7 linked regions of the Homo sapiens genome follow. The protein of the gene in region 1 interacts with the protein of each later gene in a pairwise test. Each region holds a gene or a part of one and is shown in the gene's direction. Other genes may lie near its edges.

Region 1 (4,070 bases):
TCGTCAAGGCTCAGCTGTAACATATTTACCTCATTCACAAAGCCTCCATGAGTATAGGAGCTCACACTAAAGCAATAGTTAACATTTATAACTTTATAGAGTGCTAACTCGTTTGTTACATCATTAGATCTGTACATCAGTTCTTTTGTGAGAATATTAAAGCTCAGAGAATTTTTAACTTTTTATTTTGAAATTATAGCAGGCTTGAAAGTTGCAAAACTAGTACAAAGATTTCCTATATACCTTTCATCCGGATTCTCCATTGTTAACATTTTACCATGTTTGTTTTATCATTCTCCCTCTGTATAATATGTACTAATTTGTTCTGAGCTACTTGACAGTAGGTTATAGACATGATGAATACTTCAGTGTGTTATTTCCTAAAAACAAGGAAATTCTCTTATACAACCACAATTATAATATCAAGATCAGGAAATTAACACAGATATAGTACTATTATCTTATTTAAAGACCTGTAAATTTTGCTAGTTATCCCACAGTATCATTTATTTTAAAAATAAATAAAAAAATGTATTTTTCAGAAGTTAGGCTTGAGTTCTTATTAAAAAATTAATTAATTAAATTTTTTTTTGTCTGGTCCAGAATCTGACCCTGGATCACATGTTGAATTTGCCTGTTATGCTGCTTTGGTCTCATTTAGTCTGGAAGAGTTTCTCTGTTTTTGTCTTTCATGGCCTTGACTATGGGTGATTTATTTTGTAGAATGTCCCTCAATTTGGGTTTGTTTGATGGTTTCTCATGACTGCATTCAGACTATGTTTTTTGACAGGAATACCCTAGAACTGAAATTAAATTAGAAACCCATGATATCTCTGTCCCTTTACTGGTGATGTTTACTTCAGTGACTTGCTTAAGATGGCCTCTGCCAACTATACACTGTAAAATTACTATGTTTTTCCTTGGTAATTTATAAGTATTTTGAGTACTTGTTAGTTCCTTTGAGACTATGTAAATATCCTGCTTTTCATCAAATTTCTACTACTTAAATGCTATTATAAACTATAATATTTCTACTATCTAAAAACTATTCTAAATTCTTAGCATTTATAATTTTTTTATTTTTTTAAAAATTATTTATTCCTTTATTTATTTTTTGAGACAGGGTCTCACTCTGTTGCCCAGGCTGGAGTACAGTGGCACAATCTTGGCTTGCTGCAACCTCCATTTCCCAGGCTCACTCGATTCTCCTGTCTCAGCCTCCCAAGTAGCTGGGACTATAGGCATGTGCCACCATTCCCAGCTAATTTTTGTATTTTTTGTAGAGACAGGGTTTTGCCATGTTGCCCAGGCTGGTCTCAGAGTCCTCAGCTCAAGCAGTTCACCCCCTCCTTGGCCTCCCAAAGGGTTGGGATTATAGGTGTGAGCCACTGTGCCCAGCCTATTTTTATTTTTTAATTAATTAATTTTTTTTTTGAAATTTTTTGAGGCAGGGTCTTCCTGCCTCAGTGCAGGCTGGAGTGCAGCGGCGCGATCATAGCTCACCACAACCTCAAACTTCTGGACTCAAGGTTTCCTCCCGCCTCAGCCTTCCGAGTAGCTAGGACTGCAAACACACACCACCATGCCTAGCTAATTCTTAAATTTTTTTTGTAAAGGCAGGATCTCGCTATGTTGCCCAGGCTGGTCTTAAACTTGTCGGCTCAAGTGATCCTCCCTAGTTGCCTCCCAAAGTGCTGAGATTACAGGTGTGAGCCACCATACCCAGGCAGTTTTAGCATTTAATGATGATTCTTCCTGTAACAATTATGACTGTGGTGGCCAAATGGGCATTTTCTAAAGTCTATCATTCTTTCTACATTTATTGGTTAGTATTATGCTCTAAGGAAGTGTTTTCCCTTCCCCCCTCTATTTACATATTTATTTATCTATTTATAATTTATTTCTATCAGTAGGGACTCATGGATTCTTATTTTATTCTGTAGATTTATAATTCATTACAGGTTGAGCAGCACAAATCTGAAATCCTGAATGCTCAGATTCAAAACTTTTTGAGCATTGACACGTCATTCAAAGGAATTGCTCATTGGAGCATTTCAGATTTCGGTTTTTTGGATTTGGGATGCTCAACCAGTAAGTGTTAAAAGCGCATATTCCCAAATCTGAAAAAATCCTAAATCCAAGTATCAGATAAGGGATCTGGTCTCAAGTATCAGATAAGGGATACTCAACCATTTTTTCATCTCCTGATAGGATAGGCTACACATGGAACTTTTACGTAAGCCTCAATACTTAAAGAATAGTATTTCTAGAGATTTTCTAGTATTTCTATCTGTTTGGGTGTACCTGACTAATCCATAGCTAAAATTCCTCTACCGCAGTTCTAGAATAAGGAAAATATGATGGTGTCTTAGAACCTCACAGTTTTTTAATTAACTTTAGCAATCTGCACATCGTGCTGCCACACGAGGCTTCATTCGTTATGGCTGGCGCTGGGGTTGGAGAACTGCAGTGTTTGTGACTATATTCAAGTAAGTTCACTCTGAATTGTGAGATAGTGAATTTTCTTGATATTGTTTTAGGAGTGTGTCTTTTGAGCAGGTGGGGTTATGAAAACTGAATACCCACATGAAAGTGATTAATAATGCCTTTTTTTTTTTTTCAAGAACTTTTCTCTGTGTAAAAGACTGGTGTAGTTATGGTTTTACAACCATGTCTGGAACACATTGAAGGGGCCTAGGCTAGGAACAGGGATTGATATAGTAGGCTTTTCTAAATCTATTAAGTCAGTGAAAATAACACTCAAGAAGGTAAATGGGATATGCTTTAAATCTTATATTTTCCTTCTCCTCCCTTTTTACCAGCACAGTGAACACTAGTCTGAATGTATACCGAAATAAAGATGCCTTAAGCCATTTTGTAATTGCAGGAGGTAAGACATTTTTGTTTATATTTTTCAGTCTTCTCAAATACAGTTTAGAAAATGTGTAAGGACTTATACATCAGAACTACTGAATTCTTTGGTTGGCTTCCCATTACATCTCATCAACATTGATGCAAAATGTATTTATGGACAGTGTTGTGCTTCACCCTTGATATACTCAATGGGCAAAACAGCAAGGCCCTTGCTTTCTTTGAATTTTAATGTCTAATATGTATGTGATAATACAGGTTGTTGTGATAGAAAGTAACAATTCGGTGGAACAATGGGATCTCATATGGACAGGGTAGTCAAAGAAGGCCTTTCTGAGGAAGTGACATTTGAGCTGATACCAAAGAATAGGAAGGAGCAAGACTTGCAAGGAAGGGTGTCCTAAATAGAGGGAACATCAAGGGGGAAGGCTCTAAGGCAAAACATTTCCTTAAAAGCAGGATAATAACGTGGTGAGTGAGGGAAAGAGTAGCTTGAGATGAGATTGGTGAGGACTATAGGAATGGACTAGATTTTTTATGGTAAGAACTTGGATTTTATTTTAAAGCTCTCTGCCTCTAGTATATATATGTATATTTTCTTTTTAATGAGCATTAAAAATAGAAGGTACAATGGTGATTACCAGAGACTGGATATGGGGTTGGAAAAGATGTTGGTCAAAGGATACAAAATTTCATTTAGACAGGAGGAATAAGTTCAAGAGATCTATTTAAAACATGGTAACTATGGTTACTAACAGTGTATTGTATACTTCAAAATTGCTTTTAAAAAGTAGATTTTGGCCAAGCGGTGGCTCACACCTGTAATCCCAGCACTTTGGGAGGCCAAGGCAGGTGGATCATCAGAGGTGATTTGAGACCAGCCTGGCTAACATGGTGAAACCCCGTCTCTACTAAAAATACAAAAATTAGCTGGGTGTGGTGGCAGGTGCCTGTAATCCCAGCTACTTGGGAGGCTGAGGCAGGAGAATCACTTGAACCCAGGAGGCAGAGGTTGCAGTGAGCTGAGTTCACGCCATTGCACTCCAACCTGGGCAACAAGAGTGAAACTCTTGTCTCAAAAAAAAAAAAAAAAAGTAGATTTTAAGTGTTCTCACCACAAAAAATAGTATGTGAAGTAACGTGTAGGTTAATTAGCTTAATTTAGCCATTCCCCAATATATACATACTGCAAAACATGT
Region 2 (4,683 bases), on another chromosome or scaffold:
TGCAGAAAAAGAGTTCATTTGAATTCATTCTATAATCAATAAATATCTGTCAATCCCATTGATTGTGCCAGACATGAGCTCAGTGCTGGGGATAGAGCCCTTTCCCCTTTGGGGAAGCTCACAGATTCACTGGGGCAAGACATACCTAGGAAAAGCTCATTAAGCAGCCAGGAATTAAGTGACCATAAAGAGAAACATCCAAGGTTGTCAAGAGTCCCGGAGTGCACAGGGGAATATCTGTGCCATCAGCCCCTGGTCCCCATCGGCTGACTCCGCTATCACTCCTTCTACTGCCAGGGGTTCCCACCCCCAGGTATCCATTTCTTACCTGGATGGCAGCATCCCACCCCACCACGCACTGGTCTTCCTGCCTCCAGCCTGGTTCACCTTCCATTCACCTCATGAACACTGCAAGCAGGTTTTCTGAATCTCACACCTGACCTCCTGATAGAGTCCCAGATCCTGCACCTCTCCAGCCTCAACTCTGCCCCCTTCTCAGCGGCTCTGGAGGTCCTGGCCACACCAGATTCCTTAGAGACCCTAGTCCAGTGCCTGGGTCCTCCTCCTCCCCTTAGGAACTCCTTCCTGCCCTTTGCAAACATAGCCCAAAAGTCTTTCCACGGAGAGGGCTTCTCAGGACCTAACCCCTACCTGCAGCCACCTAGGGCCACTGCCCTTCCCTAGTCCTTTCCGGGTGCCTCAGACATCAAGCGAGGCTACTACTGGCAACAAAATCCCCCACTTCCAAAATCCCTTTTTCTGGGAAAGGCAGAATCCGCCTGCAGCAGCCAATTGGGCAGGCGCCAAGAAAGTAGTGAAGGGTCAGAGGGGACAGGAGGCCACCCGCAGCGCCCACCCTGGATAGGGATAGGTTCGAGAGGTTGCTACTGAGCTGCAAAATAACCCCGTCTTTCCTTCCCGCATATGGTCTTGTATCTGACAGTCCCTGTGTCTCACAGCGGTAATCGTGTGTTGCATCGATGCGTTTGTGGTCACCACGAAGATGAGGACCAACTTGAAAAGATTCCTGGGAGTCGAAGTTGAAAGGAAGCTTTCCCCCGCCAAGGACGCCTACCCCGAAACCGGCCCCGACGCCCCGCAGAGGCCCGCCTGAAGCCAGCCCGGCGCCCTAGCAGATGCACGTGTCTGTCGAATCGCTGCCTCCGAGCCCACCCCCGAGCTCGCATGCTGTCACCCATTCCAGCCTAAATGTGACCATAAAATTAGGGCTGCTGCTTTTATCGAGAACACCTGCTTCCTCTCGTTGCCTTGTGTGAAAGTCGCGTTGTATTTTCCTGCGCTTGGCGCTGCGCCCGCGGAGCTCAGGGCCGTGACCCGGTGCTCGCAGCCCCCCGACCCCGCAGCGGAGCGGCGGCTTACAGACCTGGGGCCACCTGGAGACGCCGGGATGGGACCGCGAGGGCAGCTCCGCGCGGAGGTGGGACCGGCGGGTTGGGAACGGAGTTGGGGCCCGTCGGGGGCCGGCGCGTGGAGGGTGGGAGGATCCGGCCGCTGCCGGGCGGATGGGAGCTGCGCGAGGAGACGGGCGCGCGTGGAGAGGGCGCGGGAGTTGGCATTCGGTGGTCCTGGCAGTTAGCTGAGCACGCCCTCTGAGCCGCTCGGTGGACACCAGGCACTCTAGTAGGCCTGGCCTACCCAGAAACAGCAGGAGAGAGAAGAAACAGGCCAGCTGTGAGAAGCCAAGGACACCGAGTCAGTCATGGCACCTAAGGCGGCAAAGGGGGCCAAGCCAGAGCCAGCACCAGCTCCACCTCCACCCGGGGCCAAACCCGAGGAAGACAAGAAGGACGGTAAGGAGCCATCGGACAAACCTCAAAAGGCGGTGCAGGACCATAAGGAGCCATCGGACAAACCTCAAAAGGCGGTGCAGCCCAAGCACGAAGTGGGCACGAGGAGGGGGTGTCGCCGCTACCGGTGGGAATTAAAAGACAGCAATAAAGAGTTCTGGCTCTTGGGGCACGCTGAGATCAAGATTCGGAGTTTGGTGAGCTAAACTGGTATCCCTGGGTGGGGGGCCTTGGCCGAGGGTGGGGGGAAGGAGGAGTAGGCTCCAGGGGTCCTCAGAGAGATGGTGAAAGGCCCTTGCTGCTGGCTCAGGTGTCTATGTCTCACTGCAGGGCTGCCTAATAGCTGCAATGATACTGTTGTCCTCACTCACCGTGCACCCCATCTTGAGGCTTATCATCACCATGGAGATATCCTTCTTCAGCTTCTTCATCTTACTGTACAGCTTTGCCATTCATAGATACATACCCTTCATCCTGTGGCCCATTTCTGTAAGTAAGGGGTGATGGGGAGTGCCTGCATCCAGAATGCTGATCAGGTGTGTCTTGGCACCTGGAAAGTCACCAAACAGAGAGACACACCTCACCTCCCATATCTGTGCCTGGGTCAGGGACTCAGAACATCAGTGGGGCCCAGGCAGAGGCAGCTGGGTGCAAGAGGGGTAGCTAGGCAGAAAATGCTCCAAAAAGCCTATCTGTGTGTTGGAGTGAGAGTGGGGAACTCTTACTTACCTGGTGGTCAAAGAGGGCCTGAGCCTTTGTTCTCTTTAGGGGAAGGGGAGGTGTAGCAACCAGCTGTTCCTCCGAACTCCTGTGCCAGCTCACACTTGACAGGAGATCACCCCAGAAGGACCCCATTCCCAAAATTCAAAGAAGAAAATTACTCTCCCATAAGTCAATAAAATAAAACAAAATGGGAATTTTTTTTAAAAATCACTTCTAAAGCAGCGTTAGGTCTCCAGTGAATATCCCTATAAAGGATGTTTGGATCAGAAGGATGTTCAGCCCAAAGCAGTCATCTAGTGGAAAGAGACAGAACTGGGCAAGTTACTAAACCATTCCCAGCCTGTTTCCTCATCTGTAACATGAGACAGTCACATTCCTTGCAGAACTGACATTCAATCCTGAGGATTAAATGTAAATTGCTTGACACCGTGCCTGAGGACTCATGGAATTGAATCCCTGCCCATCACCTGTTTAACCACAGGGCACAACCACCTAACCCCTTGCCAGTCAATGAAGACCCCAATTCCCAAGTCCCTTTGTTCATTGCACATTCACAGCCTGCCTCCAGAGCCCTCTTGTTCACTGTTTCACTCACGTTACACATGAGGAAATTGGCCTAGAATGGCCAAGTAACTTGCCCCCAGGTCACTCAGCTGGTAAGTAGCAGAAAAAAGCTTCAAACTTAGCTTTATGAGTACATTTCATCCTGCCTTCTTGTTAAAAACTATTAGGGTCCAGGGATCCAGAGGTCTTGGTGAAGCAGATGAGGACCTCCGATACAGGGAGAAAGGACAGGAGGGCCAAATAAGGACTCTCAGAAAAGGGACAAGCAGAGGACAAGGTAAAAGGACAGGCAGAGGACAAGTTCCTAAACAAGGAGCCTGAGAAGACATTTTTAGTTCCAGCAAGATGAAAAACCAATGAACCCTGAACATCTTCCCACTGTGCTTACCTAAAAATACCAGGGGAAATGTAACCAGTATTGCTTTAACTGAATGAATGAGCTGGCAAAAAAGAAATGAAAACACACAGGCGCCAGAAATGGCAAACAGGGCAGTGATCACATAAGCTACAAAGTATGAGTGGGAATGGTCCAAGAGGTATTGTCTCAGGAACCTACAGCCTGGATTTTCATGCACTCTCAAGTCAGGAAATAAGGCCTTGATCCTAAGCAAAGTGGGAATTTAGAACTGAAAACCCTGTATAAAGCCAGCGCCCTGGAAAGACTACCTCCTTAGGGAAAAGATGGACAAAGACACATACCCTTCTTATTCCCAACACAGAGGAATAAGAAAACATGTTCATCTCTGCCTGAGCTTTGAGTGGGCGGAGAGGAAGTCTTCCTTGAGAAATAGAAAGCTTAAGCCTGCCCTTTGTACAGATTGGAGTTTGAATTTTTGTTATCTGCAGCCTAGAAACCTTCATGCAGCCCAGAAACCTTCATCCCTGGGAATTACCATAAAAACTGATCCCAGTCTGATGACATTCTGCTGATATCCTTGGACTCCTGATAGAAACAAATGCAAAATCACAATCAAGGCATGAAGAGATTCTCACAGTGGGGGTGGGGGGAAAACCTTGTCAAAAATGAACTAATAATTCAAAACTACTAAACACCTGATTTTAAAAAATCCCCATTACTAAGAATCAACAAACACAACAAATGGATTAGAATCCTGAGAATATGAGATAATAGAAGAGCTGTCTGAAAATAATAATATATTTTAAGGGATTATAGACATAAGAGTCCTGAGAAAAGAGTAAGACACTATGAGGACAAAATAGACAGATTTTTAAAAAGTACAGTGTCTAGAATAGAAAATATAGTTATTGAAATAAAAATGTCAATAGATGAATTCAAAAACAGATCAGACATAGCTGAAGGAGGGAACTGTTAACTGAAAGGTATGGGGAAATTACCCAGAACACAGCACACAGAGAGAGAGAAAATAAGAGATTGAGACAGAACAATGAGTGAGAACATCCATCAGTGGTTGTTGGGCTGGGTGTGGTGGCTCACACCTGTAATCCCAGCACGTTGGGAGGCTGAGGTGGATGGGTCCCTTTGGTCCAGGAGTTTGAGACCAGACTGGACAACATAGGGAGACCCTGTCTCTACAAAAAAATTTAAAAATTAGCCAAGCATGGTGGC
Region 3 (4,793 bases), on another chromosome or scaffold:
CTTAAACTGTGCTGAAGTTTGTTTCTCAGATGTAGGAGCCTTTGGGCAGAGACTATGGGGTTTCTAGGTATAGAAATTATCTCATCTTCAAACAGAGGTAATTTGACTACCTCTCTCTGCTACTCTCTTCTTACTTGGATGCCTTATAATTCTTTCTCTTTCCTGATGGCTCTGTCTAGGACTTCAAGTACTATGTTGAATAGGATGGTGAGAGTGGGCATTCTTGTCTTGTTTCACTTATGAAGGGAACTTCTTCCAGCTTTTACTCATTCAGTATGATGTTGGTTGTGGGTTTGTCACAGGCGGCTCTTATTATATTGAGTTATGTTTCTTCAATGCTTAGCTTGTTGAGGGCTTTTAACATGAAGAAATGCTTAGTAAAAAGTATGTTCTACATGTGTGTTGAGAAGATCATGTGGTTTTTGTTTTTAGTTTTGTTTAGGTGATGAATCACATGTATTGATTGTGTATGTTCAACCAACCTTGCACCCTAAGAATAAAGTTGACTTGATCATGGTGGATTCACTTTTTGATATGCTGCGGGATTCAGTTCTTAGTATTTTTTGTGGATTTTTGCCTCTATGTTCATCAGGAATATTGGCATGTAGTTTTCTTTTGTTTAATGTTCTTTTCTGTCTTTAGTATCAGGGTGATGCCAGCCTTATAGAATGAGTAAAGGCCACCCTGGGCAAACAGTGAGACCCATCCCTTTTTAAAAATTATGAGTTTTACAAATTTAAAATGCATAGTGAAAAAGTTCTTACAAACTCCAGAAAGATAGGTGTAAATAAGAGACATTTGTAAGAATGACAGCACATTAAATGTGTAGATTTCAACCTTCAGTTATTGCAATATTCCAGTATCAAGTTGGAGGATGTTATCAGTCTGATATTTTTTCCTCAAATGAGAGAGAGAAAGAAAGACACACAAACAACACAGGGAGAAAAAAAGCACACGTTACAGAGAGACAAAAAGGGAGACAGGGAACTGTGAATTTGGACTCTTGTGTCATAAGACAAATTCTAGATAACACGACCAGACCTTCAATTGACATATTGTGTTTTTGCTAATAAGGTGGAATTCTATGATGCGAAATAACTATATAGTCTTTTCTACTGGGATTTAAATCATTTTATCTGTTTCTGGCTTAACAGGAAAAATACAACCATGGAAAATTATGATGATTTATTTAATACGATTGCTCTATAGTGTTAATAAAACCTATTAGGTATTTTGCATATTACATATCAAGGAGAGTTTGAATCTCAGGTAGAAACAAAAAAAAATACATCAAATTTCCTCATGTGAGTGCAGAATTCAATCGTCCCGTGCAGGGGTAAGTGAGTCTGAGATGTGTTTTGAGCCTGGCCGTTGCGCATGATGTGAAGTGACAAGTCTAGTCTGCAGTTTTCAGAAACCCTCATTCCTCCCTTGACTGATTCACCACTTGAACCTCATATGACGTAGAAGAAGCCTACCTATGTCCCCTTCACATGTTGTGGTCAATGTGTCAACTGCACGATCCGGGCCCCTCACCACATCCTCTGCACCGGTCAGTCGAGCCGAGTCACTGCGTCCTGGCAGCAGAAGCTGCACCATGTCCATGTCACCCACGGTCATCATCCTGGCATGTCTTGGTGAGTCCTGGAAGGGAAGGAGCACCAGGGTTACACTATGGGCCTGCAGATTGGGTGTCTCCCCAGCAGAGAGCCATGTTCTGAAGCAAGTGAGTGGTGAGGATGAGTTAATTTTCAGTCCAGCGTGGCGCCCAGTGGCTCAGGAGGAAAGGGTAGGTTGCTGCCGAGATGAATAGTTCATCATGATCTTTCTTTGCAGGGTTCTTCTTGGACCAGAGTGTGTGGGCACACGTGGGTGAGTCCTTCCCCAAATGATGGGTTGCCATCTTCACCCCAATACAAGTGAATTTTCCAGAAATGGGAGGGAGGCAGCACAGAGGGTGGGCTGATGGGCTGACCATGGGAAGGCCTGGGGGGAGTCTCTCATGAACTAGTAAGAGGAGATCCTGGGAGTCTCTCATGAACTAGTAAGAGGAGATCCTGGGAGTCTCTCATGAACTAGTAAGAGGAGATCCTGGTATGCTCAGCCCTCTGTTTTGTCTTAGCCCTCCCCAGCCTTTCTTCCCCATGGCTGAGTTGAGCTCTGTGTGGCCCAGGCGGGATACTGAGGTGCTCAAAGCTGGGGTGTGTGGGGGGATGTGGTGTCACCGACAGAGGAGGGAAGGGTAGCAGTGTTAGGAACAGCAGGTCCTCTGAGGACAAGAGGGTAACTCACACCCTCCAGCGTTTCCATGACGGTAGGGGCTGCAGTGTGGCTGCTGTCATTCTGCCAGAAGAGGTGGGGGAACCACAGCCACGACCCTGCCATTCCAAATCCTCTGATGGAGCTCAGTTGTTTATTGTGGTTCAGGCATTAGCTAATATTCCATTCACAAAGGTCATACCCTCCACCCCATGTCTACTTTGTGTTCTTTGGTGTAACTAATCTTGCAGTATTAAAATCTAGTAAGAGTCCCTTACTCAGCACCTGCTCAGTTCTCAACTGACACTTTTGTTGTAGGGAGACGCCACGTCTATGCGGGATGGGTCCTTCCTGTAGCCCCAGGCACCCAGGTGTGGTAGGAGCCTTAGAAAGAAGAAATGGGGAGAATCTTCTGAGCACAGGGAGGGAGGGGCAGCTCAACATACTCCTCTCTGAGGCGGCATCTCCTTCTCCCCAAGGTGGTCAGGACAAGCCCTTCTGCTCTGCCTGGCCCAGCGCTGTGGTGCCTCAAGGAGGACACGTGACTCTTCGGTGTCACTATCGTCGTGGGTTTAACATCTTCACGCTGTACAAGAAAGATGGGGTCCCTGTCCCTGAGCTCTACAACAGAATATTCTGGAACAGTTTCCTCATTAGCCCTGTGACCCCAGCACACGCAGGGACCTACAGATGTCGAGGTTTTCACCCGCACTCCCCCACTGAGTGGTCGGCACCCAGCAACCCCCTGGTGATCATGGTCACAGGTCAGAGGGCTCCTGTCTGGGCTTCTCCTTGTCCCACCTCCTGAGTCCCAGAGCTTCTGGTGGGGGTGTCCACCAGAGTCCGATCATCCAGGCCCCAACTATATTTGGGGTAAAGGGGGATTGAATACAGGGGAATGGGTGCTGTGTTGGAAAGAATAACTGTCCCCATCGATGGCCACATTGTAATCCTTGGAGCCTGTGACTATGTTATAGGGCAGGGGACTGAAGGGGAAGATGGAGCTCAGGTTGTTGATGAGTTGACCTTGAGATGGGGAGATGGCCTGGACTCTCCCACTGGGCTCAGTGTAATCACAAGGGTCCATATGAGTGGAGAAGGAAGAGGAGAATGGGGATTAGAGCAGCATCGTGGGATACTCCACCAGCCACTGTGGGCTTTGAAGGTGGAGGAAGACCACGAGCCACGAAGGGGCTGGAGAAATCAATGGAACTGATTCTCCCGAGTCTCCAGAGGGAATGCAGCCCTGCAGATGCCTTGATTGTAGCCCAGGAAGAACAGGGTCTGATTTCTGTCTCCAGAAGTGGAAGGGGTCAGTGTGTTCTCTCCTGCCGCCATGTTTGTGATAATTTTCTCCAGCAACAACAGGAAACCAACACAGGAACCCAGGTGAAGGACAAGTTAAAAAACCAAACAAGAAGGTTGGCTACCCTGAGATCAGCAAGGGTGCACTGCTGATGCCACCACCAGGCTGGAACCACATAGGGAGGGATCGACAGGAAGAGTTGGGGGTGGAGGGTGAGAGAGAGAGAGAGAGCACTAGGCCATAGAGCAGGGCAGTGAGTTCTCAGCTCAGGTGGGAGGGGAGCTGTGACAAGGAAGAACCTCCCTGAGGAAACTGCCTCTTCTCCTTCCAGGTCTATATGAGAAACCTTCGCTTACAGCCCGGCCGGGCCCCACGGTTCGCGCAGGAGAGAACGTGACCTTGTCCTGCAGCTCCCAGAGCTCCTTTGACATCTACCATCTATCCAGGGAGGGGGAAGCCCATGAACTTAGGCTCCCTGCAGTGCCCAGCATCAATGGAACATTCCAGGCCGACTTCCCTCTGGGTCCTGCCACCCACGGAGAGACCTACAGATGCTTCGGCTCTTTCCATGGATCTCCCTACGAGTGGTCAGACCCGAGTGACCCACTGCCTGTTTCTGTCACAGGTGAGGAAAGCCAATGTCTGTCCCATGTCCTATGGTCCTAGAGCCTTAGCTGAGGAGCTTCCTGCTGATGATGGAGAGAAGCATGGACAGATGTGGAGAGAAGATGCAGCATGGTGTGAGGGTGGGATCAGGGCACAGGATGGCAGACAGGGCACCTCCAAACCCTCCTGCATGGCCTGCATGGAAGCTTGCAGTAAGGGCTCCGGGTACCCAGGCAGATGGAGAAAGTGGTCAGGACAGACCCAGAGGAGGGAGACTGGGCTCAGTTTGGGGAGATCAGAGGTTCCCTCAGCCCCTCAACCTTACCCATTTCCCAGAAGCCCACCCTGGCCTCTCACCTACACAGAGATGTCATCACCAGCAACCCCTACACTTTTTCTTTTCCTTTGAAAAAATGCTGATTGAGGTTAAATATACCTATATAATTTATCAACTTTACCATTTTTAAGTGTAAAATCTAGGGATCATAAATACCTTTATATGCTGTGTGCGGTGGCTCATGCCTGTAATCTCAGCATTTTGAGACGCCAAGGCAGGTGGATCATTTAAAATCAGGGGCTGGAGACCAGCCTGGCCAACATGGGGGAACCAATCTTTACTAAA
Region 4 (4,070 bases), on another chromosome or scaffold:
CCAGTTGGTCAAAATAGGCCATTTCCTATGTGTGACCTATTCGTGGTATGCCAACTGGACTGCTTCCTAAACAGGACGAGGAAAGTGAGGAATATTTTTATATGAAAGCCTTAGCCTGTCTGGCACCCATGAAAAAAACTATTTATGCACTCCTACTTTCACCGTCTTTTTGCATTCTCTATTTGTAGCACAACAGAGTTGAATGCCACAAAACACCCCGTTTATAGTGAGCTGTTTTCAGTGACCAATATCAGAAGGAGGCTTGCTTCTGGACTAGCCTCACTAATTGCCAGCAGCCACCATTTTCCATGGAATGGCCTTGGGACAGATGTCACCTCTGTTATGGGGCTCTAATAGGAAAGAGAATGTTTTTTCCCTTCCTATGATCAATACTGCAAATTATTGCTGCTCACAGCTTTTATAGGATTCTCCCAACTGAAAGTTGCAGGCTTTTTCTGTCCCTGTGCATCAGTACTAACAAAAGACAGCCTCACCAAGTCTGTATATTTGAACAGAGGCAAGTTAATTCATCCCCCCGTGTCAGAGCCACAGGCATGTTGAGGGGGTTGATACGTAGCACTGGACCAGGGCGCAAAGCCCAGATAGTTCCAGCCATGAGAGGAGAGCACAAGAATGCTCTGCACTCTGCACTCAGCACCACCTTGGGTCTGCTTTGCCCAGATGAGGGACCACTAACAACCTTCTCAGCACATGTGAATGTGGACTGGTTTTAAAATGCATTCATTCTGCTAGGATTGGGCTGGAAGCTGGAACAGTGAGAGTACTTTTTCTGCTCCTAGTCATCTCCCTTTCTCAGCGTGACATCCTCCTGCAGCAAGCCTAGTATCACTAGCAGTAGTTCCTGCGACTCTTAGCAACACAACCCGAATATTTGCTCCCTGCATCTGGGTCCTCCACCAGGATGGGCCTGCGCATCTGCATTGCTGTACAGACAAACAGGCCTTTTAATTTACATCCTCCTTTAATTCTCATTAAAATCGCAGGGTTTTTGTTTGAAAGACAGTCCTTTTTTTATTTATTTTGAAAAAGGAATGAGTTAGGGACCCCTTTATAACTCTCTTGGCTCAGACTCGAACCCCATGGTAAAGTCACCCTTTCCGCATCTATCTTCAGGAGTTGCTGGGACTTGTTACTGTGTAGCTGCGTGGGGATTCTGGTCTGCTCTTGGACCACTGGCTGGTATCCTTTGTGTGTTTCTTAAGCAGCTCAAAGATAGAATGTTGCTGGTCTGCTATGGGTTAGTGGAGCATAACTCAGCCCCAACTGGACTCCACGGGTGGCTGAACCATTAGTAGTTGCTAGGGGTACAACTGAATTCAACTGCCTTCAGAAACAGGGAACAAAACCAGCCTGACTTGATTCCTGGTTGGGTCAGTATCAGACACTAGGAAGTTGACATCTGCTGCTTTTCTTTGCCACGTGTGATTTGGTTAGGCCTGTCCCTGGCAGATAAGGTCCTTGAAGCCTATGCTTGCCTAGCCAGGGAAGGCAGGACAGAAATGGCCAAATAGGGGCAGGTGGCCCCTGGGAAGGTCTGAGCTGAGGGATACAGGGGACCTCCCACCATTGCCGGATACCCTGTTCTTGACAAGAAGATCCTTTTCCCCAGTGCCAAGCCCCTTGGATCCATCAGAGAAATAGCCTCGGGCCTTGTCCTTTTTCACAACCCCACTTCAAAATCATGTCATCTCCCTGGCCTGATCCCGCTCTAAGCTACTTTGAACAACTAGGAATTATTTTTCTCAGAGGCTTTTTGGGCATTATGAAATACATCCTGATACATCCAGGGCAGTATACCCAGAGCTCCAGGCAGAGAGTGATGGAATCACCTCTTGTCACTCACTAGCCTTAGGCCCTTCTGCAGGTTAGCCTCTCAGTCTCTTCCTTAGCTTCCTTAGCTACCACCCAGGGATTGTAGTAACGTCCCTGGCACCTCTTGTGGGGGTTAGCTGGTGCCCAGAGCCTGGTAGGCAGCAGGCCTGGTGTCATGGGGGCTGCTGATACCACATAACATCATCTGGGTTACATGGGCTCCTCTGCCATCATGATTGATAGGAACAGAACCTCAGCCAAAAAGCTTCCTGAGCTGTAGGGGCTTTCCCTGAGGCCCAGGTTCACCTGGCCCCTTTCTTCCTTGGTCATCTCTGCCTTTGCCCACAGTGAACTCTGACTTGGTTGTTCAGTGCTGAATATTTCTTTCTTAATGTTTTGAATAGGTAATCCATTCATGTGGTTCACAAATCATAAAGTAGTTAAAAGCCTTTCTTGAGTTCCTGATGCCTAGCAAGCTCCGCTCCTCACTCCATGAATACCTACTATTGGTTTGTTCCTTGGGTATCCTTCCAGAGATCATTTATGCATGTACACACATGTGTATGTGTGTCTATATAATTTTTCTCCTTTTCTACTCATGTGATACCAGACAAGTGTATTCAAGGAACGCTCCTACTAATGTGGGAAGAGCCATCCCAGAAATCAGAATACAAAATGTGAACCCAGAATTGGGGGATGTTTTTGCAATCACACTCCTGTTGAGTAAGACATATTTTCATTTTATTGCAACATACTGAAATTTTAGTTTTCTGTACAAATCAGAATCTGCAGTCCCTCCCTTACCCCAAATGCCCAGCTAATCCAAGAGCACAACCAGATTTTTCTGATTGACTTTCTATCTGCGACAGGATGCTCAAGATCAGGCTCTGTAGCTGACAGCAGTGGCACAGGCCTCTCCCAGCTCTGAGCAGCCTCTGCAGGTGCCTGGACAGCTGCTGGCCCCTCCCCTACCTTGGCCAGTTCCAAGTGAGGACCAGTGGTGATGTGTGGCTGCAACTGTTGTGGTCACTTAGGCAAGCTCTTGTGTCTTTGATGCAGGAGTTTGAGCAGCAGCAACTGAAGGCTTCTATTTTGTGGGGCAGACATCTTAGCTACTGAGCAAGTGCACAGTGAGTCTCATGTGGATATGCCTGAATGTCCAGCGTCAGTTCATGGAGCTACTCCCTTTCCCTCCCAACTTTTCGTTGTTGTTGAGACAGGGTCTTGTTACCCAGACTGGAGTGCAGTGGCACCATTGTAGCTCACTGCAGCCTCAACTTCCTGGACTCAAGTGATCCTCCCGCCTCAGTCTGTAGCTGCGTCTACAGGTGCACACCAGCACACCTGGCTAATTTTCGTAATTATTTTTTTGTAGAGACAGGTCTCAACTCACTATGTTGCCCAGGCTGGCCTCCTCACTCTGTGCACACACTTTGAAAAGAAAATGCTTCTGGTCGGGCGCGATGGCTCACGCCTGTAATCCCAACATCCCAGCACTTTGGGAGGCCGAGGCAGGCGGATCACCTTAGGTCAAGAGTTCAAGACCAGCCTGACCAATATGGTGAAACCCCCTCTACTAAAAATACAAAAATTTGCCGGGTGTGGTGACGCATGCCTGTAATCCCAGCCACTCAGGAGGCTGGGACAGGAGAATTGATTGAACCCGGGAGACAGAAGTTGCAGTGAGCCAAGATCCCCACTGCACTCCAGCCTGGGCAACAGAGCGAGACTCCGTCTCAAAAAAACACACAAGAAAAGAAAATGCTTCCTACAGAATTTTCCCTTTATGCCTTGTTTTCCATTTGACAACAGAAATTACCCCAACAATTTTTTTTTTTTTTTTTTTTTTTTTTTTTTTTGAGACGGAGTCTCGCTCTGTCACCCAGGCTGGAATGCAGTGGCACGATCTTGGCCCACTGCAAGCTCCGCCTCCCAGGTTCACGCCATTCTCCCGCCTCGGGAGCTGGGACAACAGGTGCCCGCCACCACGCTCGGCTAATTTTTTGTATTTTTAGTACAGACGGAGTTTCACCGTGTTAGCCAGGATGGTCTCGATCTCCTGACCTCGTGATGCACCTGCCTTGACCTCCCAAAGTGCTGGGATTACAGGCGTGAGCCACTGCGCCCGGCCAATAATTTTTTTAGTTTAAGTTCATTTTTGTCCCCGCTGATGAAAGTTAGAGCTGCTTCCTCCAGGCAGCCCTGGGAGTAGGGGCACAGACTTGTGCCTCGCTTCC
Region 5 (4,070 bases), on another chromosome or scaffold:
GTAATTCTGATATACAGAAATTTTCAAAAGCCATGCCTTGATCAGATGTTCTGGGTTGCATGGATGGGCCTTAAAGATCCACAAAACCTTTACATTTTTATTAATATTTTGTGTCAGTGTGATTTATTTATTTATTTATTTTTGCATTTTCCCGGGGAAAGTGTTCATGACTTCTATTAGATTTTCAAAGGGGTCTTTAACCAATAGCAGATTAAGAACCACTTCCATGTAGGAGTAATCAGGGGTTTTGTAATCTCTGATCTGCTTAAAGGGATAGATTGTCATCTGATTGGGCAGTGTTCTACAGGCAATCCTTCTCCACAAATTGTTAAAACTCACAGGTGCTTTTTTTTAATTGTTACATTTCCTACTGTGGTTGCTTTTGCAACTGTTATTTTTCCAAGACTGTTAATGTAAACAAGAAGGAAAGTCATAGGCCGACAATAGGAGCACCACCCATTACATACAAACTAAAGATTAGACTCCAGTTGAATTAGTATTGTTACATCCACACAGCAAAACAAGGAGTTAGAACACTAAGAGTTCTTTTCATTCCTTCCCTAGGGAATTTTCCAAGTATAAAATAGGACATTTTTCTCTGTGTTAACCATAAGAGTCGACTCTCTGATATGCTAAAGAATTGCTGTCCGCTCTAGGCTCAGAAATGGCCCTTCATCTACTGGTTTCCCTTTCCCTCATTACATTCTGAGTAAATGACCTTCTTTCTGTTGCTAGAAATTATTACCATCTCAGGCTCTCTTCCCTTGCTCTCCCTCCTTACTAAAATACTCTCCTTTTCTAATGACTAGTTCTTGAGCTTACAGCTAATCTAAAAGTCACTTCCTCAGAAACTATTCTATGACCATTCTTGTTAATACTGTCTTCTTCCATTCCCACTGCCTGTTATTCTCTATCACTTTACCTTGTTACAGTGTCATAATATTTGTTACCATCCGAAATGACTTATTTATTTTTAATCAAGTAGCTAAGTGAAAGTAGAGACCAAATCACCTGACTGGTTGCAAGAGCACAGTACATGGCATATAGTGTCAGGCACTTGAATTAATTAATTAAGGAAAGATATCTTGCAGATCAGACCTAAAGCCCATCTACCTCAATTTGACTGAGAAATCCTGAAGGATCTTTGCTCAAAGACACAGCAATATCTGCTCAAGAGATAAATCTGCGGGTGGTAGAGCCAGGATCTAAAACATACCCATAACTCCCTGCTCAAGGGAAGACCATAAGCAAAATAGGGGGTGGAGGATAGGAGGAGACGTCAGAAAGTATTGCTAAGCACTTAACATGTACAAAGCAGGGACACGGATTGTGAAGGAATAGTCTAGGCTCTTAATCCCTTCTCCTCAAATAATTTGCAGTCCTTATGGTAAAATTACTTAAGCCAATGCACAATGCCATAAATAAAAATGAGTAGCAAGATAAATGTCAGCCAAAGATCACAGGCAGTTTCCAGCGAAAGGAGTTCTCAATGGGTCCAGTGTGCTTAGGGAAGTGTTTATGGCAAAAGCAAGATGTAATTTGGGCCTTGAATGACTAAACAATATTTGATTTGGAAGAGAGAATGAGAGGAATAACAATGATTCATAAAGGTGGGAATTTTACTTTATTTACTCCAATATGTCTGATGCCTAAGTGGTGTGTCAGATGCATAGTAAATGCTAGAGACATGCATTTGAAACAATGAATAGACTGGATTGTTCTCTCCACTTGCTTTTGGATCAGCTTGGAGCTACCTAGACTGCATTTTGCTCATCATTTTTCTGAAAAATATACATATTCTTAACTCCTCTCACCCTTTGAGAGCCCTTAATTCTAGGGAATATTTTCCCCTCTGGGTTCCATGATGTATTTTCCTGGTTCTCTCTCTACCACTAGCCATTCTTTCTCATTCTTTTTATTTGACTTTTCTTCATGCACCTGCCCTCCAAATGTCATTGTTCCTCAGAATTCCAAACGTGCTTGGTTCTTCACATTGCAGTTTACACATTGGGAACACTGCCTATAATCTAATGAGTTTCAAATTCACATTTCTGTTGCAATTTTTTCCTGAGCTCCAGATGGAATAACTGATTGCTTGCTACAAAATTCCATCGTTTTTCTACCACTATTTCAAATTCCACTGGTCTAAACCCAAGCCCATCATCTCACTCAAAACCTTCCTCCATATCTCATTAAGTCACATCATCATCCACCCAGAATCCAGAAATCTAAGGATCTTCTCAAATCCTTCCTGCTCATCATCACCTTCATCGAATTGCTGAATATTCTACCCTATATACCTTCCTCGGGTATATGTATATGCACCCTATATACATTTCTCTTCCTCAGCTCCACTGACTAGTTGGTCAAGTTGAGTCCTTTATCATCTCTTTCCCAAGTTCCTTTTATTGGATTTCTAATAAGTTTCACTTTTCTCTGTCTCTCTTTTTATTGGATTTCTAATAAGTTCCACCTTCTGTCTCATCAATTCATCTTCTACCTACTACCAGAACTTTATATCAAAAAAATTTAAATTTGGTCATATCACTGCCATGCTTGAAAGTTTTTCATGAATTTCCATTGCCTCCAAAATTCAAGCAAATGCATTAGGCTGATGTCAAATGTCCTTCTCTGATGCCAATGTATCTTTCAGTCACATTTCTCACCTCTGCAACCTGAAGCCCCAATGACTAATGAGTTTCATTTTAAAGCAGGTCATGTTTGTATAAACCCCCAATATCTGTGCGTGTGATTTTTCCCTCTGCTGAAAATGCCTAGCCCCAAAGCCAAAACCCCACTCTGTTCACTTGGCAAGTCTAATCATTTTCTAAAGCCCAATTCAAAAACAAACTCTGTAAAAAAGTCATAGACACTTAACATCAGAAATTTCAGTTTTTCATATTCAGGGATTTCATAATCCTTTGCAGAAATCTTCATAACAACTTTTATCCCCACATTGTATTAAATTACTTGTATCTGAGTTGTCTGTTTTCTCCACTAGACTGCAATTCACAAACCATATTTTAGTTATCTTTTACGATCTCAGCAGATACCCTGGTACCCAGTCCTTAAGCCATAGGGCATAATGTTTCTAGCATTTAGTAATGACTCTGGAGAGCCAAATTTTTAAATTTTCTTTGTAACTTACCAGCCATGTGCTTTGGACAGGTTGTTTAATCTTTAAGCTTCAAAGGTTTTCTCACACATAAAAAGAGATAATAAAGATGCATTCAACAAATATTTATTAATTTCTACTATTTGCCATGCACTGTTCTAAGTGCTGGGGATATATTACTGGAAAAATATACCAAAATATATGACTTTATGGAGTTTATGTGTGAATAGATACCTAACTAATGGGTTTGTTGGCAGATGCAAAAAAGATAATTATGCATAAATTACTTGCCCACTATGAACTATGTAGAAATTTTAGGTCTTATTTCTTTCTGACATAGAAAAATCTAGAGAAGAACAGTGTGGCTCAAACATTATACAGCGCCTTAGTGATCATTCTAACACTCCTGTTCAGTCTCAATTGTAATTCTTATTTTCTCTTTTTTTCTCAAGAGGATTTATGGAATTTGATGATAATGAAGGAAAACATTCATCAAAGTGACATCCTCAGGTGATTTTTCACTTAAAATTTACAACTGAAATAACAGTGTATTGGACAAAGGAAAAAGAGTCTGTCCAGTTTTATTTAATAATTTTGGTTACCCATGTCTACCTACAAGCAGAAAAAGTACATTTTAAAAAAATAAATGAATATATTTTTTTCATGTACAAGTTTCTAATAATAAAATTTTCTTAAGAGAGGAGGTAGAGCTGTGAGATGAAGTGAATAAGGATGGCAAGTTTGGAGACCTGATTCCTGTCACAAATCTGCTAGGAACTTGCTTTGTACAAGTTCAGCCTGTGAAATGAGGGGCTAGCACGCACTAGCAATCTAAGGACCCACGTAATCATGCAGTTAGTTACTCATAAGAAGAGTGAAATTTGCTGAACCTAATTCAGAGAGAAAGGATAACAAACTTTCTATCTCACGCAGTTAGATATATGGGCAAACAATA
Region 6 (4,852 bases), on another chromosome or scaffold:
CAATGTTTTACAATAAACAGAAAGCCAAGCGGATGTTGCTATTTGGCCTTTTTTTTTTTTTTTTTGACTGTTTCTTCCTGGTAATTAATGTGGGAACTCCCAGTTATCTTCCTCTGAGCCAAATATTTGATATCATCAAAATAAGAAAACAGAAGGAGGTTGGGCGAGATTAGCATCTGTAGTCCCACTGAAAACAATTTAGTGAGCATTAGGAAAGCCCAGTTTCGTTGATGGGGGATGGGGAGATGATCACTGGAAATTAGATACCATTCATCACTACCAATTTAGTGCTATTAGTTCTTCTGGCAAATGAAGTTATGGGATTATATCAGGGTCATGCATTGGTGTTTTCTGGTATTTTTGCACAGAAGCCTGATAAAACCCATTAAGAATTTAAAAGGGGAAGCCCTCAGTGGGGTGGACCTGTTGCATTTGACAACATTGAGCTTTTCCTTCTCAGGGCTAACTCCTAAGGAAGAGAATTAGCATATTTATCCTCTGTACAAAGAGGGCCAGTAACATCAAGTGCATTGAGGTTTCTGCTTAAACCTTTGGACTATGGTGCAGGGACCAGGTAATTTAGAAGAGTGCAGCCCACTACAAGAGCTATGGCCCATTAGAAAGTTCAAGCCTTGACCAGGTGCGGTGGCTCACGCCTGTAGTCCCAGCACTTTGGGAGACTGAGGCGGGTGGCTCACCTGAGATCAGGAGTTTGATACCAGCCTGACCATCGTGGTGAAACCTCGTTTCTACTAAAAATACAAAATTAGCTTTAAAAATTAGCTATTAAAAATTAAAAGACGATAATGAATTCAAACACAATGTCTTAAAAAACCAAAAACTACGAAAAACAACACAAAACTCCACAGCACTGAGTGGACCACTGAAAACCTGCCATGGGCAGGCTGGACGTACAGGCCCCAAATTTGTTAGCTTTTCATCTCCAAGGGCACGAATGCAATTGTGCTGCCGAAATGTCTTGCCTTTAGAAACGCGTGTGTGTGTTTTCCCCCTTTCATTATTAGAATATCAGGTTTTAAATGGCACTGGCAATCAGCCACGTAAAATTTGTGATTTTAATAGAATCCCTTCAATTAAGGACACGTGCAAATACCACTATGCCAACAGCAGTCTGACTCGGCCAGACAGATAGGATATTGTCATCATCACCGCTTCAAAGATGACTTAACGCCCCTTAATTTCACATCCTTTGTTCAGGCAAGATCACAGCATGAGCGGCTGGACTTAAAACTGTAGTAAGTATAACGTCTCCCATTTACTAGATACTTACACTGTAAGGAAACCATTATCACCCCCACTTTACAACTGATGAAAGAAGTACATAAAGGTTGGTGATATGATTGGCAATAGAGTTCCCAGGCGCCTAAGCTCCAGGGCGCAAGGTCTCAACTCCTGGCGTCTAAGTTTATACCTCCCATAATAATACCGTCCATTAGTTACTCTAGAGTCCTCCTGCCTTGTTTTTCTTAACGTTTTACTTCTCTGCAAGAACATATTTTAAAAAGTTGCTTCTACAATTTAAAGTACAAAAGTAATACTGTACAGGAGTAAGTCTTTGTAAAATATTTAAAGAAAATTATATTATACAATAAAACCCCGCCCCCCTGCATTCGGGGCAGCGACACTGGGGGAACGACTTTAGAATTTGCATTGGGTGGACAGCAAATACTTCCGTAAAACAGACCATGAAGCTTTCCACTTAGAGCCCACTGTGGCCCCAATACCTTTCCCTTTCGCTCCTGCTCCAGGCTCCGCCTCCGCCGTGTCCGGGCCGCTCGCCCCGCCCCCGCTCGCCCCGCCCCTGGATTTGCTCCCTCAAAGCGGAAGTGAGGCCGGACTGAGGCTCTTACAGTGGTCCCTGCTGGCCCTTGGTGACGGGTCGCCTCAGTTCCGACCCGGACCCGTACGCTGCTGCGCTGACGTGGCTCCCGGAAGTAGGGCTGGCGTAGGGCCGCCATGTTGCAGCAGGTGAGGGGCTGAGGGCTCGCTGGGAGGGTGGCGGCTCCTGGGACTGGCTCTGCAGGTTCCGTGGGACTGGAGCCCGCGTCCCCCGCGCCCGCTACTCGAACTCGAGGAGGAGCGGGGCGGCCGGGAGTGGAGGGCTGTGGGTAGTTGTCTGAGGAGGGCTGCTGGGGGTTCTGAGGCCGCTGGGGGCGGCGTGACCCGTGCGGCGCAGAGCAAGTACTTCTTGCGGCTGTGGGGACGCCCATTGTTAACCAGCGCGAGTGGGGGTCTCTCTTTCCTCAACCCTTATTGCCGGGGTGGAGTTGAGGAGGAGCGGCCTGCGGGCCTCTTAGCTTCCTGACACCCAGGGGTGCGATGCTATTTTGTAGGAATCGGCGACACCGCCAGAGCCTCGCTTTCAAATTGCTGTTTCCAAACTAATGTTGTTGGTGATTCTCTCCTTTGTGCTCTTAGAGTTAATTGTAGTCCACATGTTGGCAACCAGAGACTCGTAAGATTAATAATATTTTTAGAAAAAACTACTGTTTATGGTCACTTAGATTGTCTTAAGTGTTTTTTTCTTTCGGTTCACACAAAATTTGTTGAGGGATTACTATGACTCAGACACGGTTGTAGGCCCAGGGATAGGGTTGTGACCAGTACAGACAGGTTTCTTGCCCCGTATTTTTGGGTTAGGGAAGTGGGTTCTAGGAGATGGGGGTTGGGTGGGGAGACACGATAAATTGTATAACCAAAGATATTTTCAGATAATTGCAAAGGCAGGGTGATGAAATAACAAGTGTCTGAGGATAGGACAACTAAGATTTATGGTCAGGAAAGACTGCTTATGAGGAGATGCCTTGAGTGGAGAAAATCTAATAATGGTTAAATTCAGCTGTATTACAGGAAAGGTGTCCCGATCCAGACCCGAAAAGAGGGTCCTTGGCCGGGCGTGGTGACTCAGGCCTGTAATCCCAGCACTTTGGGAGGACGAGGTGGGTGGATCATGAGGTCAAGAGATCGAGACCATCCTGGCCAACTTGGTGAAACCCTGTCTCTACTAAAAATACAAAAATTAGTTGGGCGTGATGGTGCACGCCTGTAGTCCCAGCTACTCGGGAGGCTGAGGCAGGAGAATCGCTTGAACTGGGGAGGCTGAGGTTGCAGTGAGCCGCGGGCCACTGCACTCCATCCAGCCTGGCTACAGAGGGAGACTCCGTCTCAAACAAAACAAAAAAAGTCTTGGATCAGGCAAGAAGGAATTCAGGGTGAGTCCACAGTGCAAAGTGAAAGCAAGTTTATTAAGAAAGTAAAGGAGTGGCTACTCCATAGAGCAACCTGGAGGGCTGCTGGTGGCCCATTTTTATGGGTATTTCTTAGTGGTATGGTTAACAAGGGGTGGATTATTCATTCCTCCCCTTTTAGATCATAGAGAGTAACTTCCTGATGTTGCCATGGCATTTGTAAACTGGCATGGCGCTGATGGGAGTCTAGTAGTGAGGACGACCAGTGGTCACTCTCGTGGCCATCTTGGTCTTGGTGGGTTTTGGCTGGCTCCTTTATTGCAACCTGTTTTTTCAGCAAGGTCTTTATGACCTGTATTTTGTGCCGACCTCACATCTCATCCTGTGATTTAGAATGCCCTGTCTGGGAATGCAGCCCAGTAGGTTTCAGCCTCATTTTACCCAGCTCCTATTGAAGATGGAGTTGTTCAGGTTCACATGCTTCTGACATTTGAACCTGCGCCCAGGCCGGATGAGGCTGGAGAAACACAACAATGTTGACTGTTCCCACTATTTATTTATTTATTGATTGATTGATTGATTCATTCATTCATTTATGAGACGGAGTTTCACTCTTGTTGCCCAGGCTGGAGTACAATGGTGTGATCTCGGCTCACTGCAACCTCTGCCTCCCGGCTTCAAGCGATTCTTCTGCCTCACCCTCCAGAGTAGCTGGGATTACAGGCGCCTGCCACCACGCCCGGCTAATTTTTGTATTTTTAGTAGAGATGGGGTTTCACCATATTAACCAGGCTGGTCTTGAGCTCCTGACCTCAGGTGATCCACCCGCCTCAGCCTTCCAAAGTGCTAGGATTACAGGCGTGAGCCGCCAGGCCCGGCCGACGGTTCCCACTTGATAAATTTGTGACGTGAACCTCAGTCGAGCCCTTAGTGCTGCCAGGCGGTCATTCTACATTTCCATAGCCCCTTCACCCTCTCGCCTTAGGCAACTATTAAAACTCAAATCTTCAACGTTTCTTCTCTTATCCTCTCTCAGCTGGTAACGTTGCTTCTTGTTTCACTGAAAATGGAAGCCGTCGGAAGACAATTTTCACACTAGCTGCCTAGTTGCATGTTTACTCAGGGTCTCATATTCTTTTATGATAATTGGACTGTTAGTGCTCCATTCTTAGGTCTTCCTGTCTACTGTGTCCTGGTTTCCATCTCCTCTTGCCTACTGGAAGGCATTGTTCTAGTAATTCTCTTTCTTGTATCATCAGTTTTTTAATCCTTTTAAACGTTTGCTCACATCAACATATAAACGTGCTTTAATTTCTCTTACCTTAAAAAATGAAAACTTGGCCGGGCGCGGTGGCTCACGCCTGTAATCCCAGCACTTTGGGAGGCCGAAGCGGGTGGATCACGAGGTCAGGAGATCGAGACCATCCTGGCTAACACGGTGAAACCCCGTCTGTACTAAAAAACAACAAATTAGCCGGGGGTGGTGGCGGGCACCTGTAGTCCCAGCTACTCGGGAAGCTGAGGCAGGAGAATGGCATAAACCTGGGAGGCGGAGCTTGCAGTGAGCCGAGATCGCGCCACTGCACTCCAGCCTGGGCGACAGAGCCAGACTCCGTCTCAAAACAAACAAACAAACAAACAAA
Region 7 (4,748 bases), on another chromosome or scaffold:
CGTGAACCTGGGAGGCGGAGCTTGCAGTGAGCCGAGATCGCGCCACAGCACTCCAGCCTGGGCGACAGAGCCAGACTCTGTCTCAAAAAAAAAAAAAAGAATCCAGTCCATAGTCCCCTGAGCCATGTGCCCTGGGGTGCAGCTGGGTCCTTCAGGAGAAAAATGCTCTATTTCTGGCACTGGGACCGAGCCTGATGTGGGTTTTTTGTTGGTTTTTGTTGTTGTTATTGTTTTTGAGACAAGGTCTCGCTCCACCACACCCGGCTAATTTTTGTATTTTTAGTAGAGACGGGGTTTCACTACGTTGGCCAGGCTGGTCTTGAACTCCTGACCTCAAGTGAGCCGCCTGCCTCGGCCTCCCAAAGTGCTGGGATTACAGGTGGGAGCCACCGCCCTGGCCCTGGGCCTGATGTTGATGACCTCCTACTATGTGCACCTGCAGCTCTCCTGCATAGGCCTCAGCCGTCCTGCATGAGGACACTGGGAGGCAGGTGCTCCCTATCAACCCCGTGTTACAGTTGAACAAACTGAGCCCCAGAAAAGAAAACGTATTTGCCCAGGTCACACGGTGAAGAAGTGAGGGATTCGAAGCCCAGGTCCATCTGAAGCCAGAGTCACCCAGAGGAGAAAGAGTTGGAATTGAGAACTCAAGGAATGCTTGGAAGTGATCGGGCTCGAGCCCACCTAGGAAGAAACAGAGGCTGGAGACATGAGACTGTGTTGCTATTTCCTCTCATCAACCCTTGGGCCCTATTGAGGCCCTACCACAAGCCTGGCCCTGCAGCCCAGTGACTAGGAGAAATTAGACACAAGATAATAATAACAGCAATGATCTTTTTTTTTTTTCTGAGACGGAGTCTTGCTCTTTCGCCCAGGCTGGACTGCAGTGGCGCGATCTCGGCTCAATGCAAGCTCCACCTCCCAGGTTCACGCCATTCTCCTGCCTCAGCCTCCCGAGTAGCTAGGACTACAGGCGCCTGCCACCACGCCTGGCTAATTTTTCATATTTTTAGTAGAGATGGGGTTTCACCGTGTTAGCCAAGATGGTCTCAATCTCCTGACCTCGTGATCCGCCTGCCTCGGCCTCCCAAAGTGTTGGGGTTACAGGCATGAGCCACCGCGCCTGGCCAACAGCAATGATCTTTGAGCACCTATATTGCCAGTCTCCACGGTAAGAGCTTTCTTCATTTTTTGTTTTGTTTTGTTTCAAGACAGAGTCTTGCTCTGTCACCCAGGCTGGAGTGCAGTGGTGTGATCGCGGCTCACTGCAGCCTTCACTTCCCGGGTTCAAGCCATTCTCCTGCCTCAGCCTCCCAAGTAGCTGGGATTACAGGCACGCATCACTACTTCTGGCTAATTTTTGTATTTTTAGTAGGGACAGGGTTTTTCACCATGTTGGCCAGGTTGGTCTCAAACTCCTGGCCTCATATGATCTGCCCACCTCGGCCTCCCAAAGTGCTGGGATTACAGGCGTGAGCCACTGCGCCTTTCTTTGTATTTGTTCAAGTAATATACTGAAATATGTACTGTGCCTCCCACTTTATGGAGGAGGAAACTGAGGCCAGCAAATGAGGCTGTCATGGGAGGTGGAGACAGGATTTGAACCTGCCTCAGTGCAGGAGGCTCAAGAGCCTCTGTCTTCTCTCAGGGCACTGTGTGGGAGGGTGAGAAGGAGGGAGGCCCACAGAGGCATGACCTCTGATTGCCACTGTCACCTGGGCCCTGCTCTCTGAAGTCTCTGCCAAGCGGGGAGGTGGCCGGGGGAGGGCCCTGCTCTGTGCAGCCTCCCCTCCCCCGGCCCGCAGAGTTGAGCACAGAGGGACAGAGGCACGGAACCCCCAGAAATGTCCCTCCTCAGAAACAGGCTCCAGGCCCTGCCTGCCCTGTGCCTCTGCGTGCTGGTCCTGGCCTGCATTGGGGGTGAGAAGAAGTGGGTGGAGGGATGTGGGGCCCACACCTGGTGGGTGTGAGTGTGGCTGTGTGTCCTGTGGCTCTGTAGCCACGTGAGACATGAGTACGGAGTGTGTGCGTTTCATGGCGTGCGTATGCATGTGCGTGTCGGGGAGTGTGTGTGTCGGTGGCTGAGAGTGAAGTGTGAATGTCACATTGGTACAAACTGGGATCATCTGTGTGTGTGCACGTGCGTGCGTGGAAGTGGGAGTATGCAGTCGTGGTAAAAAAGTGCATGTCTGTGTGCATATGTGTATTTGTGTGCACCTGTCTCTCTGTGGGGTATGTGTGTGCAAAATATTTGAGTGTGTGGACATGTGTGAGGGGGTGAGTGTGTGCTGGTGTGTACGTCTGTGTTTTGCATATGCATTTTTTTTTTTTTTTTTGAGACGGAGTCTCACTCTGTCACCCAGGCTGGAGTGCAGTGGTAGCAGTGGTGCGATCTTGGCTCACTGCATCATCCGCCTACCCGTTTCAAGGGATTCTCCTGCCTCAGTCTTCAGAGTATTTGGGACTACAGACACACGCCACCATGCCTGGCTAATTTTTTTTTTTTGAGACGGAGTCTCGCTCTGTTACCCAGGCTGGAGTGCAGTGGCGTGATCTTGGCTCACTGCAACGTCCGCCTCCCGGGTTCACGCCATTCTCCTGCCTCAGCCTCCCGAGTAGCTGGGACTACAGGAGCCCACCACCACGCCTGGCTAATTTTTTGTATTTTTACTAGAGACGGGGTTTCGCCGTGTTAGCCAGGATGGTCTCCATATCCTGACCTCGTGATCCGCCTGCCTCGGCCTTCCAAAGTGCTAGGATTATAGGCGTGAGCCACTGCGCCTGGCCAATGCCTGGCTAATTTTTTTATATTTTTGGTAGAGACAGGGTTTTGCCATGTTGCCCAGGCTGGTCTTGAAATCCTGACCTCAGGTGATCCGCCCGCCTTGGCCTCCCAAAGTGCTGGGATTACAGGCATGAGCCACCACGCCCGGCCATGTACTTTATGTTAAAATGGGATCATATTCTAGATCAGCATTATCCAGTAGAAATTTAAATTTTTAATACAGGGCCAGGCACGGTGGCTCATGCCTGTAATCCCAGCACTTTCGGAGGCCGAGGCGGGTGGATCGCAAGGTCAGGAGATTTGAGATCATCCTGGCTAACAGATGGGTAAAAACCCATCTCTACTAAAAATACAAAAAATTAGCCATGCATGGTGGCATGCGCCTGTAGTCCCAGCTACTCGGGAGGCTGAGGCCGGAGAATCACTTGAACCCGGGAGGCAGAGGTTGCAGTGAGCCGAGATCGCGCCACTGCATTCCAACCTGGGTGACAGAGCGAGACTCCGTCTGAAAAAAAAAAAAAATTTAACACGTATGTAGACAATGTGCAAGGCACCATTCCATGTGCATCGTATGTAGTAACTCTTAATTCTCACGATAACCCTGAGGTAGATATTATTACCCCGTTCTACAAAAGGAGAAACAGTCCTGGGGAGACAGGATAAGTCACCGGCCAAGGCACACAGCTAGCTACATGTGGCCCCCGCGTGACGGCTGGTCTCTGTAGGCGAGGCTTTGTCCAGATGCGTGGGTAGAAGGTCTGGCCCGGAAAGAGGAACTGACAGCAAGGCTAAGCCAATGTCTGCCCCTGGGGGCAGAAAGTCACCTCCTGCTCTCCCTCCACTGTCCACAGAGGTAGCTCAGACAGGGTGGGGGTCACAGGAGAACGAAGGGAGAAGGGGGTAGTTCCTGGGCAGCAAAATCAGGTGGTGAAGGGAGGCATCAGAGGATGGCAATTAGAGAGGCCATTAGAGGGGAACCACAGGCAGACAGGGTGACAGGAGGGACTACTGACACAAGGTGAAGAGATGGCCCAGCCGGACGGGGTGGCTCACATCTGTAATCCCAGCATTTTGGGAGCCCGAGGTGGGTGGATCACTTGAGGTCAGGAGTTCGAGGCCCCAACATGGCAAAACCCCATCTCTTCTAAAAATACAAAAATTAGCCGGGCATGATGGCAGATGCCTGTAATCCCTGCTACTCGGGAGGCTGAGGCAGGAAAATTGCCTGAATCCAGGAGGTGGAGGTTGCAATGAGACGAGATCATGACACTGCACTCCACCCTGGGCAACAGAGCAAGAGACTGACTCTGTCTCATAAAAAAAAAGAAAAAAGAAAAAAAAAAAGAGATGGCTGATGGTTAAAGAGGGGTTAGCGGTCAGGGGACACATAAGGGTAAAGGCAGGAGGCAAGAGGACTGGCAGGGGGCTGCCCCTGGGCCACCGGGAGCGACACAGGATGAGCATGGAGGGAAAGGGAGAAGGGGATTCTAGGGTCCCAGCCTACCCAAGTTGCCCTCTGGTTCCACCTAGCATGCCAGCCAGAGGCCCAGGAAGGAACCCTGAGCCCCCCACCAAAGCTAAAGATGAGTCGCTGGAGCCTGGTGAGGGGCAGGATGAAGGAGCTGCTGGAGACAGTGGTGAACAGGACCAGAGACGGGTGGCAATGGTTCTGGTGAGGGTGTGCTGGGCTGGGTGGTGGGAGGGGACTCCTGGGTCTGAGGGAGGAGGGGCTGGGGCCTGGACCCCTGAGTCTCAGGGAGGAGGAAAGGGTGGGAGTGGGGCTGTGACCCCTAGGTCTGGGAGGAGTGGAGGGTTAGAGCTGAGAGCAGGAACTCCTAGGTCACAGAGAGGAGCGGATAAATGGGGCAGAGAACACCTGGGGAGAGCTGGGGCCTCCACTGTGATGTCCTCTCTCCTGTAGGAGCCCGAGCACCTTCCGGGGCTTCATGCAGACCTACTATGA

The links.
Region 2: the proteins of TIMMDC1 (region 1) and CMTM2 interact in binary tests that used the Homo sapiens proteins (3 or more experiments, as listed by UniProt).
Region 3: the proteins of TIMMDC1 (region 1) and KIR2DL4 interact in binary tests that used the Homo sapiens proteins (3 or more experiments, as listed by UniProt).
Region 4: the proteins of TIMMDC1 (region 1) and RNF24 interact in binary tests that used the Homo sapiens proteins (3 or more experiments, as listed by UniProt).
Region 5: the proteins of TIMMDC1 (region 1) and C5orf46 interact in binary tests that used the Homo sapiens proteins (3 or more experiments, as listed by UniProt).
Region 6: the proteins of TIMMDC1 (region 1) and TVP23B interact in binary tests that used the Homo sapiens proteins (3 or more experiments, as listed by UniProt).
Region 7: the proteins of TIMMDC1 (region 1) and APOC4 interact in binary tests that used the Homo sapiens proteins (3 or more experiments, as listed by UniProt).

What each region holds. Positions count from the first base shown.
Region 1 is NC_000003.12:119,501,132-119,505,201, forward strand, and holds part of TIMMDC1 (complex I assembly factor TIMMDC1, mitochondrial isoform 1 precursor), read left to right. Parts: intron 1-2,400; coding exon 2,401-2,489; intron 2,490-2,822; coding exon 2,823-2,890; intron 2,891-4,070.
Region 2 is NC_000016.10:66,577,888-66,582,570, forward strand, and holds the start of CMTM2 (CKLF-like MARVEL transmembrane domain-containing protein 2), read left to right. Parts: upstream 1-1,575; 5' UTR 1,576-1,720; coding exon 1,721-2,005; intron 2,006-2,138; coding exon 2,139-2,297; intron 2,298-4,683. Other genes in the region: CKLF-CMTM1 protein, read left to right, coding at 944-1,114; CMTM1 (CKLF-like MARVEL transmembrane domain-containing protein 1), read left to right, coding at 944-1,114.
Region 3 is NC_000019.10:54,802,055-54,806,847, forward strand, and holds the start of KIR2DL4 (killer cell immunoglobulin-like receptor 2DL4 isoform c precursor), read left to right. Parts: upstream 1-1,555; 5' UTR 1,556-1,597; coding exon 1,598-1,637; intron 1,638-1,836; coding exon 1,837-1,872; intron 1,873-2,738; coding exon 2,739-3,023; intron 3,024-3,896; coding exon 3,897-4,190; intron 4,191-4,793. UniProt on the Homo sapiens protein: Receptor for non-classical major histocompatibility class Ib HLA-G molecules. Recognizes HLA-G in complex with B2M/beta-2 microglobulin and a nonamer self-peptide (peptide-bound HLA-G-B2M).
Region 4 is NC_000020.11:3,928,370-3,932,439, reverse strand, and holds part of RNF24 (RING finger protein 24), read left to right. Parts: 3' UTR 1-4,070. UniProt on the Homo sapiens protein: May play a role in TRPCs intracellular trafficking.
Region 5 is NC_000005.10:147,896,539-147,900,608, reverse strand, and holds part of C5orf46 (uncharacterized protein C5orf46 precursor), read left to right. Parts: intron 1-3,567; coding exon 3,568-3,616; 3' UTR 3,617-3,625; exon of another isoform or gene 3,626-4,070.
Region 6 is NC_000017.11:18,779,317-18,784,168, forward strand, and holds the start of TVP23B (Golgi apparatus membrane protein TVP23 homolog B), read left to right. Parts: upstream 1-1,866; 5' UTR 1,867-1,977; coding exon 1,978-1,989; intron 1,990-1,997; exon of another isoform or gene 1,998-3,233; intron 3,234-4,852.
Region 7 is NC_000019.10:44,940,434-44,945,181, forward strand, and holds the start of APOC4 (apolipoprotein C-IV precursor), read left to right. Parts: upstream 1-1,803; 5' UTR 1,804-1,844; coding exon 1,845-1,920; intron 1,921-4,315; coding exon 4,316-4,457; intron 4,458-4,706; coding exon 4,707-4,748. UniProt on the Homo sapiens protein: May participate in lipoprotein metabolism.